Linked DNA regions of Homo sapiens. The protein of the gene in region 1 purifies or fractionates together with the protein of each later gene. This does not show direct contact. Each region holds a gene or a part of one and is shown in the gene's direction. Other genes may lie near its edges.

Region 1 (5,313 bases):
TCAGATCTCATGAGAATTCATTCACCCTGACGAGAACAGCACGAGGGAAACCGCCCTCATGATTCAGTCACCTCCCACCAGGTCCCTCTCTTGACATGTGGGGATTACAATTCGAGATGAGATTTAGGTGGGGACACAGAGCCAGACCATATTGATGATTCGTAGACCTAAATAAAACACAACAATATAAAACTGGAAGAAGGTAACATCAGAGAAAATTGAGGTGGCTTTGGGTTTGGTGATGACTTTATAACACCAAAAGCACTATCTATTAAAAAATTGCTAAGTTTGGCTTTATTAATATAAAAAACTTCTGCTCGGTGAAAAACACTGTTAAGGAAATGAAAAGACAAGCCACAGACTGGGAGAAAAATTTTGCCAAACACATACCTGTTCAAGGTCAGGTATCCAAAATATACAAAGGACTCTTAAAACTCAATAATAAAAAACAACTCAATTTAAACATGGCCCAAAGACCTTGACAGACACCATGAAAGAAGATAACGCAGATGGCAAATAAGCATAAAAGGAAACCTTCAGTGTGGTACGTCAATAGGGAACTGTAGATTAAAGCAGTGATTGAGATGCCACCACATACCTGTTAGAATGGCTAAAATCCAAAACACTGAGAATAGCCTGGGCAACATGGTGAAACCCCATCTCTACCAAAAAAATACAAAAAATTAGCTGGGCATGGTGGCTTGCGCCTTAGTCCCAGCTACTTGGGAAGCTGAGGTTGGGAGGATCCCTTGAGCCCAGGAGGTCGAGGCTGCAGTAAGCTGTGATCGCACCACCTCACTCCAGCCTGGGTGACAAAGCGAGACCCTGTCTCAAAAAAAACCCAAAAACACTGATAATACCAACTGCTGGCAAGGATGTAGAGAAACAGGAAGGAACTCTCATTTATTACTGGTAGGACTGAAAACTGGCACAGCCACTTTAAAAGTCAGTTTGGCAGTTTCTTATGAAACTAAATATGTTATTATATGATGCAGCGATTGTGCTCCTTGATATTCACTCAAAAAAGTTGAAAACTTACATTCACACAAAAGCCTGCAGACAAATGTTCATAGCAGCATTATTCATAATTGCCAGAACTTGGAAGCAGCCATTCATTTCTTCAGTAGGTGAGTGGATGAATGGATAAACAAAATGTAGTGTATCTGTATGATGGAATATAATTGAGCAGTAAAAAGAAATGAGCTATCAAGCCATGAAAAGATGTGGAGGAATCTTAAGTGCATATTACTAAGTGAAAGAAGCCAGTCTGAAAAAGCTCCATACAGAAGGATTCCAACTGCATGACATTCTGCAAAACTGTAGAGATGCAGAAAGGATCAGTGGTGGCCAGAGGTTATCGGAGAGGAAGGGGATCAGGTAGAGCAGAGCACTGAGGATTTGTTACTTCCCACTTAATTTCTTTCTAAACGCAAAACTGCTCCAAAAAATAAAGTCTGTAAATTTTTTTAAAATTAAATAATAGGTCGGGTGAATGGATAATTAAATAATAGTAGGTGAGTGGATGAATGGATAAACAAAATGTAGTGTATCTGTAGTATGGAATATTATTGAGCAGTGGCTCACACTTGTGATCCCAGCGCTTTGGGAGGCTGAGGCAGGACGATTGCCTGAGCCCAAGTGCAGTGAGTTATGATCATGCCACTGCACTCCAGCCTGGTCAATAGAGCAAGACTCTGTCTCTTAAAAAAAAAAAAAAGAAAGAAATTTAAAAATAAACTTGCACGCAATTCACCTTTCGCGGGAGTACCTTGATACTGAGCAAGGCCTTCTTAAAAAGTGCTGGTCTTGGCCGGGTGTGGTGGCTCACATCTGTAATCCCAGCACTTTGGGAGGCCAGGGCGGGCGGATCATGAGGTCAGGAGTTCAAGATCAGCCTGGCCAATATGGTGAAACCCTGTCTCTGCTAAAAATACAGAAATTAGCTGGGCGTGGTGGTGCGCACCTGTAGTCCCAGCTATTCAGGAGGCTGAGGCAGGAGAATCACTTGAGCCCTGGAGGCAGAGGTTGCAGTGAGCCGAGATCGTACGACTGCACCCCAGCCTGGATGACAGAGCGAGACTCCATCTCAAAAAAGGAAAAAAGTGCCGGTCTTTGGTTTTAGGATGGTCTTGGCCGGTTTACCTTCCACTGAGATCATAATCCCTCTGCATAGTTTTTTTAGTTTACTGGAAAACTACTATTAATTGAAGCTTCTGATAGTTTTCAGGTGGCTCAAAGTGAAATAAGAACTTTTGGAATTTCACTATGTCTTTGGTTGATTTTACATTGCGTTTTCATTATTCCGATACGTCATCTCCCTGACAAGTAAGGAAGTTGCAGATTAATTGTGGACGTAAGATTTTTGAGTTGAGGAAAGGTGTTTTTTCTCAGAGCCGCCCCCTCTCTCTCCCAGCTGCAGGACTCATGCACACGTTCAATGCCCACGCCGCCACTGACATCACGGGCTTCGGGATTTTGGGCCATGCGCAGAACCTGGCCAAGCAGCAGAGGAACGAGGTGTCGTTTGTAATTCACAACCTCCCGGTGCTGGCCAAGATGGCTGCGGTGAGCAAGGCCTGCGGAAACATGTTCGGCCTCATGCACGGGACCTGCCCGGAGACTTCAGGTACAGGATGCTGGGCGCATCTGAGGACTAAATAGTGAGGCTAACAGAAAGCTCAGCGAGAAAGCAGCAGCCCCACCCCGAGTGGGCCCCCACTCTGTTCGAGTTCCATGCTGCTGACCTCGGCCTCCGCAGCAGCTGGTGCCTTTCCTCCTCCCGGTGGGTCTGGTCCCCGCCATCCTGGGTGGATCCAGCAGCCTTGCTGAGGTTGAGTGGCCTGTGCTCTTTTTGATGCAAGGATATGGTGATGGGGGAAATAAGGTAGCATTCAGTTTTTACTGAAAGCTTCGCATTTGAAATTAACTGTAATACCCCTAGGTTACTTTGAACAGGTGATATTTTTTTCCTTGAAAATTGTCTAACGTTGTTTTAAGAATGATAGAGAGAAAAGGGGCCAGGTGTGGTGGCTCTTGCCTGTAATACTGGCACCTCAGGAGGCTGAGGCAGGCACATCACGTGAGATCAGGAGTTGAAGACCAGCCTGGCCAACATGGTGAAACCCCATCTTCACTAAAAATACAAAAAAAAAGTAGCTGGGCGTGGTGGTCCATGCCTTTAATCCCAGCTGCTTGGGAGGCTGAGCCAGGAGAATCACTTGAACCTGGGAGACAGAGGTTGCAGTGAGCCGAGATTGCGCCACTGCACTCCAGCCTGGGTGACAGAGCGAGATTCTGCCTTAAAAAAAAAAAAAAAAGAAAAGAGAATGATACAGAATAAAAAAGAATGCAATAGGATATTATGTCTTTAAAATGCCATTTTTCTTTTTTCTTAGATGTGCAGTAATTTATTAGAGGAAACATAAATGGAGGATAAACGGGAGATGGAGCAAGCGTAGGTAGAGAGAGCCATCAGACAGCAGTGCAGGTCTGACACCATACGCCCCAGTAGTTTGACTCCTAGGGAGCTTTTATATCCCTTATCATTTTTCTAAGATTAAGCTCCTTTTGTTTCCTGATTAATTTGGTGGCCACATCTGTCCGGAACTTGTGGGACGTCCTCCTCTTCATCATGGCAGGTACTCCAGCATGGCCTGCCGGCCGCCGAGGCCGCCACCCACAGCCTACAGGCTCGCCATCGCTCATTCCCACTCCCGCAGCCCCAGCTGGAGCCAGATGGCGCGTCCTCCTGAAGTACCATTTCTCTTTTGCCCCCTTTGTTCCCTTTACCTTTACTGTTTTCATCTTTTAAGTCTCCCTGTTTTTCCCTTTTTTTCGGTTTCTCTCTTTTTCTATTTCCTTTCCTCTAGAACTCTAGTTTTCTACCCGCAAAAGAGTGGAATCACCTTAGGATTTTAAATATACACATGCCGGCCAGGCCTGGTGGCTCACGCCTGTAATTCCAGCACTTTGGGAGGTCGAGGTCAGGAGTTCGAGACCAGCCTGACCAACATGGTGAAACCCTGTCTCTACTAAAAATACAAAAATTAGCGGGGCGTCGTGGCGTGTGCCCTGTAATCCCAGCTACTCCAGAGGCTGAGGCAGGAGAATCGCTTGAACCCAGGAGGCACAGGTTGCAGTGAGCCAAGATCGCCCCACTGCACTACAGCCTGGGCGACAGAGTGAGACTCTGTCTCAAAAAAAAAAAGAAAAATACACATGCCTAGCCCCAGCCTCCCAAAAACGGTGGGATCCATCTCGGGTGGGCCTGGGCCTCAGCATCTGTGAAGGCTGCCTGGGAGATTCCGTAGTAGGCCGGGGCAAGGGACCACAGTGCTGGGACCACAAAGCCCTGGTCACGTCGACCTGTGCTGTGGCGAGGGGGCTTCAGGACTCTGCCAGGCCTCTCACCGCCTTTATAGAGGACGCTTCAGCCTCCCGTTTAAAAAAACAAACCATTTTCTAGAAGTAAGCTCCAACAGGGCAGGGTTTTTTTCCCCTGCTGGTTCAGGCTCTGGCCAGGACAGTGTCTGCCACATAATTGGGCACTGAATGGAAATTGAATGAATTGACGAATGTTACCAGCCATTTAAATTTGTTTCCTTTCTTCAGAAATAGGAAGTTTTTAATTTTATGATGGAGTTTTCCTCTTGTCACCCAGGCTGGAGTGCAATGGCGCGATCTCAGCTCACTGCAACCTCCCCCTCCCCGGTTCAAGCGATTCTCTTGCCTCAGCCCGAGTAGCTGGGATTACAGGGCTGTGCCATCATGCCCAGCTAATTTAGAGACGAGGTTTTACCATGTTGGCCAGGCTGGTCTTGAACTACCTCCTGACCTCAGGTGATCCACCCGCCTCGGCCTCCCAAAGTGCTGGGATTACACGTGTGACCCACCATGCCCAGCCACAAGGTTTTTACATTTTGTAGAAGTAGACTACAGTTTTTCCTCATCATCTTATTTCTACTTAGAGAAATAAATTTTGGCCCGGTGCAGTGGCTCACGCCTGTAATCCCAGCACTTTGGGAGGCCAAGGCGGGTGGATCACGAGGTCAGGAGATCGAGACCATCCTGGCTAACACGGTGAAACCCTGTCTCTACTAAAAATACAAAAAATTAGCCGGGTGTGGTGGCGGGCGCCTGTAGTCCCAGCTACTCAGGAGGCTGAGGCAGGAGAATGGTGTGAACCCGGGAGGTGGAGCTTGCAGTGAGCCGAGATCACACCACTGCAATCCAACCTGGGAGACAGCGAGACTCCGTCTCAAAAAAAAAAAAAATTTATGGCCTATTTACTGGAAAGAGCAACAAAGGTTTATT
Region 2 (5,313 bases), on another chromosome or scaffold:
ATTATTTTGATTTAGTATACAAATACAAGTTTTGTAGGCATTCAGATAGAAATGTCTAGGCTGGGAAGGCAGACCCACAGGTCGGGAGAGTGGATGTTAGAGTGCTTTATTAAGTATTATCTGTGTAGAAATTTGAGTCCTAAACCTACATGAGATAGCTGAGTAAGGAAGTATAGGGAGAGAGGAGAAGGCCAAAAACAGCTTAAGATGGGATTATAAAGAGCTCCCATGGAGGAGGAAAGAGAACTCTACAGGAGAGATCAGCAAGTAACCAGTTTACTCAACAACATTATACATTGTTTTTAGAGAGAAAGATAAATGATTCAAAAAAATGTTTAATGACTGGAATTTTGGATGTAGTTCTGTGGTAATAATCTTAACTTACTGAATGACTTTTGCTATATTCTTACCCCAAACCCCTTCCTCATAGGTAGAAGAAGAAATCCAGACTCTGTCTCAAGTGTTAGCAGCAAAAGAGAAGCATCTAGCAGAGATCAAGCGGAAACTTGGAATCAATTCTCTACAGGAACTAAAACAGAACATTGCCAAAGGGTGGCAAGACGTGACAGCAACATCTGCGTATGTTTCCTTGATCATACACTTTCCTTGGGAGTGTAAAGGACACTGTTGTGCCTTTTGTCTGGAGAGGGGAAGAAAAAGAGGATAAGGATGCTTCAGCAGCTTTTCTTTGGACGACACGGCACCCTTTTTTTCTGATTTTCAAGTGTGCCTGCCTTTTTTTGTAACTTCAATTTTTCCAGACCACTTATTCTAAGGAATAGAAAGAAAGCTAGCCAGTTGGAGAAATAAAATTCAAATCCCATAAGTGTTATGTATTGACTTGCCACAAATATGTACATTTTGTCCTTTAGTACTCAGAATAACCCAGTAAGAATGGGTGGCAAGATAACCCTGGATAAGGAAACAGGCTCAGACAAATTAAGTTTTCATGTCACAAACCTCTCAAAATGTGGAGTGGGAATTCAAACTCAGGTCTGGAGCCAGTCTTTATTATTATTATTAATGTATTTTTTTAACCTTGTTGTGTAGGTATCAAAAGATTCTCAGGTCGTAGTCTCAGATATATGCTCTTGGCAGAGGTCAATCCCTTAGGCTTTTTGTCTTTTTGACCACACATGCTATGATATAGCATTATCATAATGCAGTTTTGTTTCCCGGCACAAGGAGGAGCAAGCTTCTAGCAGCAGAAACCGAACTGCTCTGTCTTCTGTATTGAGAGCCATCTGCAGAGCTGGTGAGCACAGAAGTTGTTTTACAATTTAACTATCAGAAGTGAGGCCAACTGCATTTAACATGACAGTACTTGAGTCCCCAGTCTTTTGGTCCATTTTCTACCCATCTAAGTTGGCAGTGGGAAAACATACAGGAAACTATTTTTTCAACAGTATTACCATGAACCATGTTTTTTTATTGGTATTTGATCTTGACAGGGTAAGTAAAAATGCCTGAGCATTCTTTCCCATAATGTGGGAATTGTTTTGGTAGGTACGATATTATTTTGTTTTTTGTTGTTGTTGTTGTCATCATTTTTTTGTTTTTGCTTTTCTCTTCTCTAATCTCCAGGTAGCTGGGAAGGAGGTGGTAAATTATAGCTTTGCGTGATAGCAGATACCACACTAGAATAATTTTAAGCATTGCATATTTTACATACTTTGTTGAAAGTCCATCATGTCCGTATTTGGTAGCTCTCTAAAGACATGCAAAAATTTTTAGAAAGTATGCCCATAAAATGTATTTGGATAATAAAATACAAATGGGTCCTACTTACGCCAGCTACTAATTGCTTCTGGCCCTTTTTTAGGAAATCAAGTTGACAAAGGCATCTGAGGAATTTGATTTCATTTTTGTTTTGTTTGGATTATGTGAGAAAAGAACAATAGGTATGAGTTCTTTCAGGCCTTTGCTTATTTTCATCTTGGTTTGATGATTATTTTTAGCCCTTACCTTGACTTCTTTGGCCCTGCCTTTATAGGACTCTGTCTTTCTGGCTGGACTAGGGCACTGCAGAAGATTGTGCCTGAGCTTAGGGTTGAGCATACGAAGATGTGGTGATGCCGCTCTGCTGGTTATGAAGGATTTTAGAAGTTCTGAAAAATGTTTTCTCTTTTTGAGAGTTCTCCAGCAGGTGGTGACCACTGCACTTGAAACAATTGATATTAGAAAAGATGAGCTGACCCTTCTTTTGCTCTGTGTGTTTATAATTTAATATAGTTACAAGAAGACATCTGAAACCTTATCCCAGGCTGGACAGAAGGCCTCAGCTGCTTTTTCGTCTGTTGGCTCAGTCATCACCAAAAAGCTGGAAGATGTAAAGTATGTCCTCATTTTTCCTTGCTCATTAAGTAGCTGACGCAAATTAAAATGTTATTGTTGTTGCATCTGTTTCCTGACCTTGGCTCTAGTTGATGCTAGCTACTCCTGTTAGAGTGAGGGAGGGCACTCCTTCAAACCAGTACCTGGAAGGCTCATCTAAGGTCTTCTAGGCCTAGCATTCTAACATCAAATGATCATCTGATGATCATTTAAGGTTGTTGAAAAATTCTGGTTGTGAACTTCTTTGTCTTTTTAGTTCTTCATGATCATGCAGGGTAAGTATGTCTTTGGTTGCAAATTTGTGATTGTGGGCAGAGCCTGGTGTGTTACTAAGGATGACTACAGGAGCACTGAAGTGCACGCTTCGATTCAGATTTGGCTTCACGTTCTATATGTGACATTTTATATCATGGTGTGATTACAACATGCTCATTTGTGCACTGTTTTATTCTAACTGGTAAGCTGTAACTATGTTCATGCTTAGGCCAAAATCTTGATTTTGAGTTGTTGCTTTTTTTTTTTTTCATTTAGATTAGTCTGCAGAGTTTTCCTTGCCATTTTTATAAAACCACTTCACAGTGCTTTTGTGCCCCCCCTTCACTCATGTGGATTAGGATAGTGATGAAAATGACAAATGTGGTTTAAGTCAGCTGTGCTTCTGTTGGCATGCAAGATTTGTGTTTAAAAAAAAATGCTCAGATTGCATGGCTTCGTGTTTTGCATTTGTGGGGAAAGTGTATATCTTACAACCAGAATTTCTTGGTTGAATAGATTTGGTCAATTTATGTGTTATACTTTACACCAAAAGAACAAATTCCTCGCTCATTATATTTAGACTGTCATTGTCTAAGCATAATGTAATAAATATAGCTTTCTTGAACTCTTTTGACAATTATGTATGTATCTATTAGGTGTTCATTTTCTCTATGCTGACTGAATTGTGTAGCAGTTTAGAGCCCAGGGAAAACATTATATGTTTAAAACTTAGGTTATTTAATTGTTTTAGATTTATCAGAACTTCTTTCTTTTTTAATGCTTACTCTGGCTTCTTACAGATTGCAAGCCTTTTCACATTCCTTTAGGTAAGGAGAGTTTGAACCATCACTGCAGTCCAGCAGTTGTATAAGAAAAGTGTGCTGAGATTAGATTACCATGCTACGTTGGATGATCGTGTTTGTCCAGTACATAATTTTCTTGCGTTTAGAGTATCTTTTTCTCTAGTGCATTCCTAATTTCAAGGGAGGGTTTCTTGTATACCATGGGTAGTTGATAAATTAAAAGAAGTATTTGACACTGTGGTTCAAGGGATATGGAAATGATTTTGACATTTCTTTTTTACTTTTTTCTTTGGTAAAAAGAAGCAGCTTTACCATGGCATGCAAAATTCCTCCCTTTTAATGTCTGACTTTGTTTGTTTTGATGCTTTTGTTTCTTTGGTACTTTTGTAAGGATGTTGGAATTCTTCACCTGGGTTTCATTACACAATTGTAACAGACTGCATATGTACTGCCTCCTGATGTTAGTCTTCCATCTTCTATTGGTTACTCTACCTTTTTTTTTGTTGTTGTGGTAAAATATACATAAGGTAAAATCTGCCACTACTCTGCACTTTTTAATACTTGTTTTACTAGCTTATAGTTTTTATGATTTTATTCTTTCTTTACACTTGTTATATTCTTTATGTACACAAGGCAACTTCATGGTTTGAAAAAGGGAAAAGAATATTAAGCTAAAAAAAGCACATTAAAAAGATGTTAGCTCAAACCATGCCTTATAGAAAGAGACTTTGTGATGTTGAGGAAACCTTTCTCTTTCCCAGGCAGACTCTTTGATTATCTGATTAGTTGTTGGAGGAAACTAAGGTGGAGGAAAGTCTTTAGAGTATAAGCAGGAAGGATGATATAGTAGTCTTCATCTCTGTTCCTATGGATGCAGATTATTTTCTTAAGCAATCACTCATGGTAGTCTAGCTGCTTGCCTTTTTAAGTAAGCAAACAGGTACTTAAAGCTCCTATCTTGGTGACACTTACCCCTGGAAGTCAGAGTAAATTATAGGGATATATAAACTCTAAATGTTGAACTATTTAAAGCTAAAATTATGCTTAAAAAATCAAGTAACCAATGATAGGTGATTGTGTATCGTTGGCATTCAGTTAAAAAGTGCTATAAGTAACTGAATACAGAGCCAGTCACATCACCCATTCTGCTAACATTTAGAGTGTCTACTGTGGACAGGTTCCATGGGCATAACCATAAAGAACGCATGGCTTTTATTAGAATGAAGCTTAAAATCTTAGAGTGGAGTAGGGGAAGAGTGGGGACTTGGGATAAGTTAAGAATGGAAGAGCCTTATCAGTACTGGTTATAAAATGTTCGATGTGATGCAAACATCAGTGTAAGATATAAAAGTAAGGGCTATTGAGGATGATGTTTCTTCAGTACATATCACTAGACTTTTCTATACCTTTAAAGAATACCTTTCTATACCTTAAAGCCATACCTAGATATGGCTCAGTGTGTGCTGTCTTATTAATTCATCAGCAACAAATTATGTTTTGCAACTGTTTTCTAGCTCCTTTCACAGTCACTTTGTCCATTTTGTTTAAAAAATATAATTAAGATTATGCTGTACCATTTTCAGTCTTGTTTTTAATAAATATTAAGTTTTTATGAATATTTAATTGCCCATCAGTATGTAGGGGTTAAAGTAAGGTTTTTGATTAAAATTTGGAAATGAAAGAAATGAGATTATCTTTTGAAAGTTAAACTTTGTAATTCTTGCAAATCACAGGTTAGGTAAAGGCATTTAAAAAAATAATTTCAAGGCCAAGAAGTCCTGATTGTGTTCTGATTTAATGTGTTGACACATATAAAGAAAACCTACATCTTTTAGATTATGTGAGTCACAGAGGCAAATATTGGCCACGTTCCCTCAAGAACTACCCAAGGAAAGGGAGCTTAGGCTGTAGATTTGAGTGT

What was found.
Region 2: the proteins of SEPHS1 (region 1) and TPD52 fractionate together in Homo sapiens (co-fractionation; one large-scale study listed by BioGRID). This does not show direct contact.

The regions. Positions count from the first base shown.
Region 1 is NC_000010.11:13,320,148-13,325,460, reverse strand, and holds part of SEPHS1 (selenide, water dikinase 1), read left to right. Parts: intron 1-2,413; coding exon 2,414-2,626; intron 2,627-5,313. UniProt on the Homo sapiens protein: Synthesizes selenophosphate from selenide and ATP.
Region 2 is NC_000008.11:80,048,548-80,053,860, reverse strand, and holds part of TPD52 (tumor protein D52), read left to right. Parts: intron 1-430; coding exon 431-579; intron 580-1,185; exon of another isoform or gene 1,186-1,255; intron 1,256-2,232; coding exon 2,233-2,334; intron 2,335-2,590; exon of another isoform or gene 2,591-2,609; intron 2,610-3,389; coding exon 3,390-3,416; intron 3,417-5,313. Other genes in the region: TPD52-MRPS28 protein, read left to right, coding at 431-579, 2,233-2,334.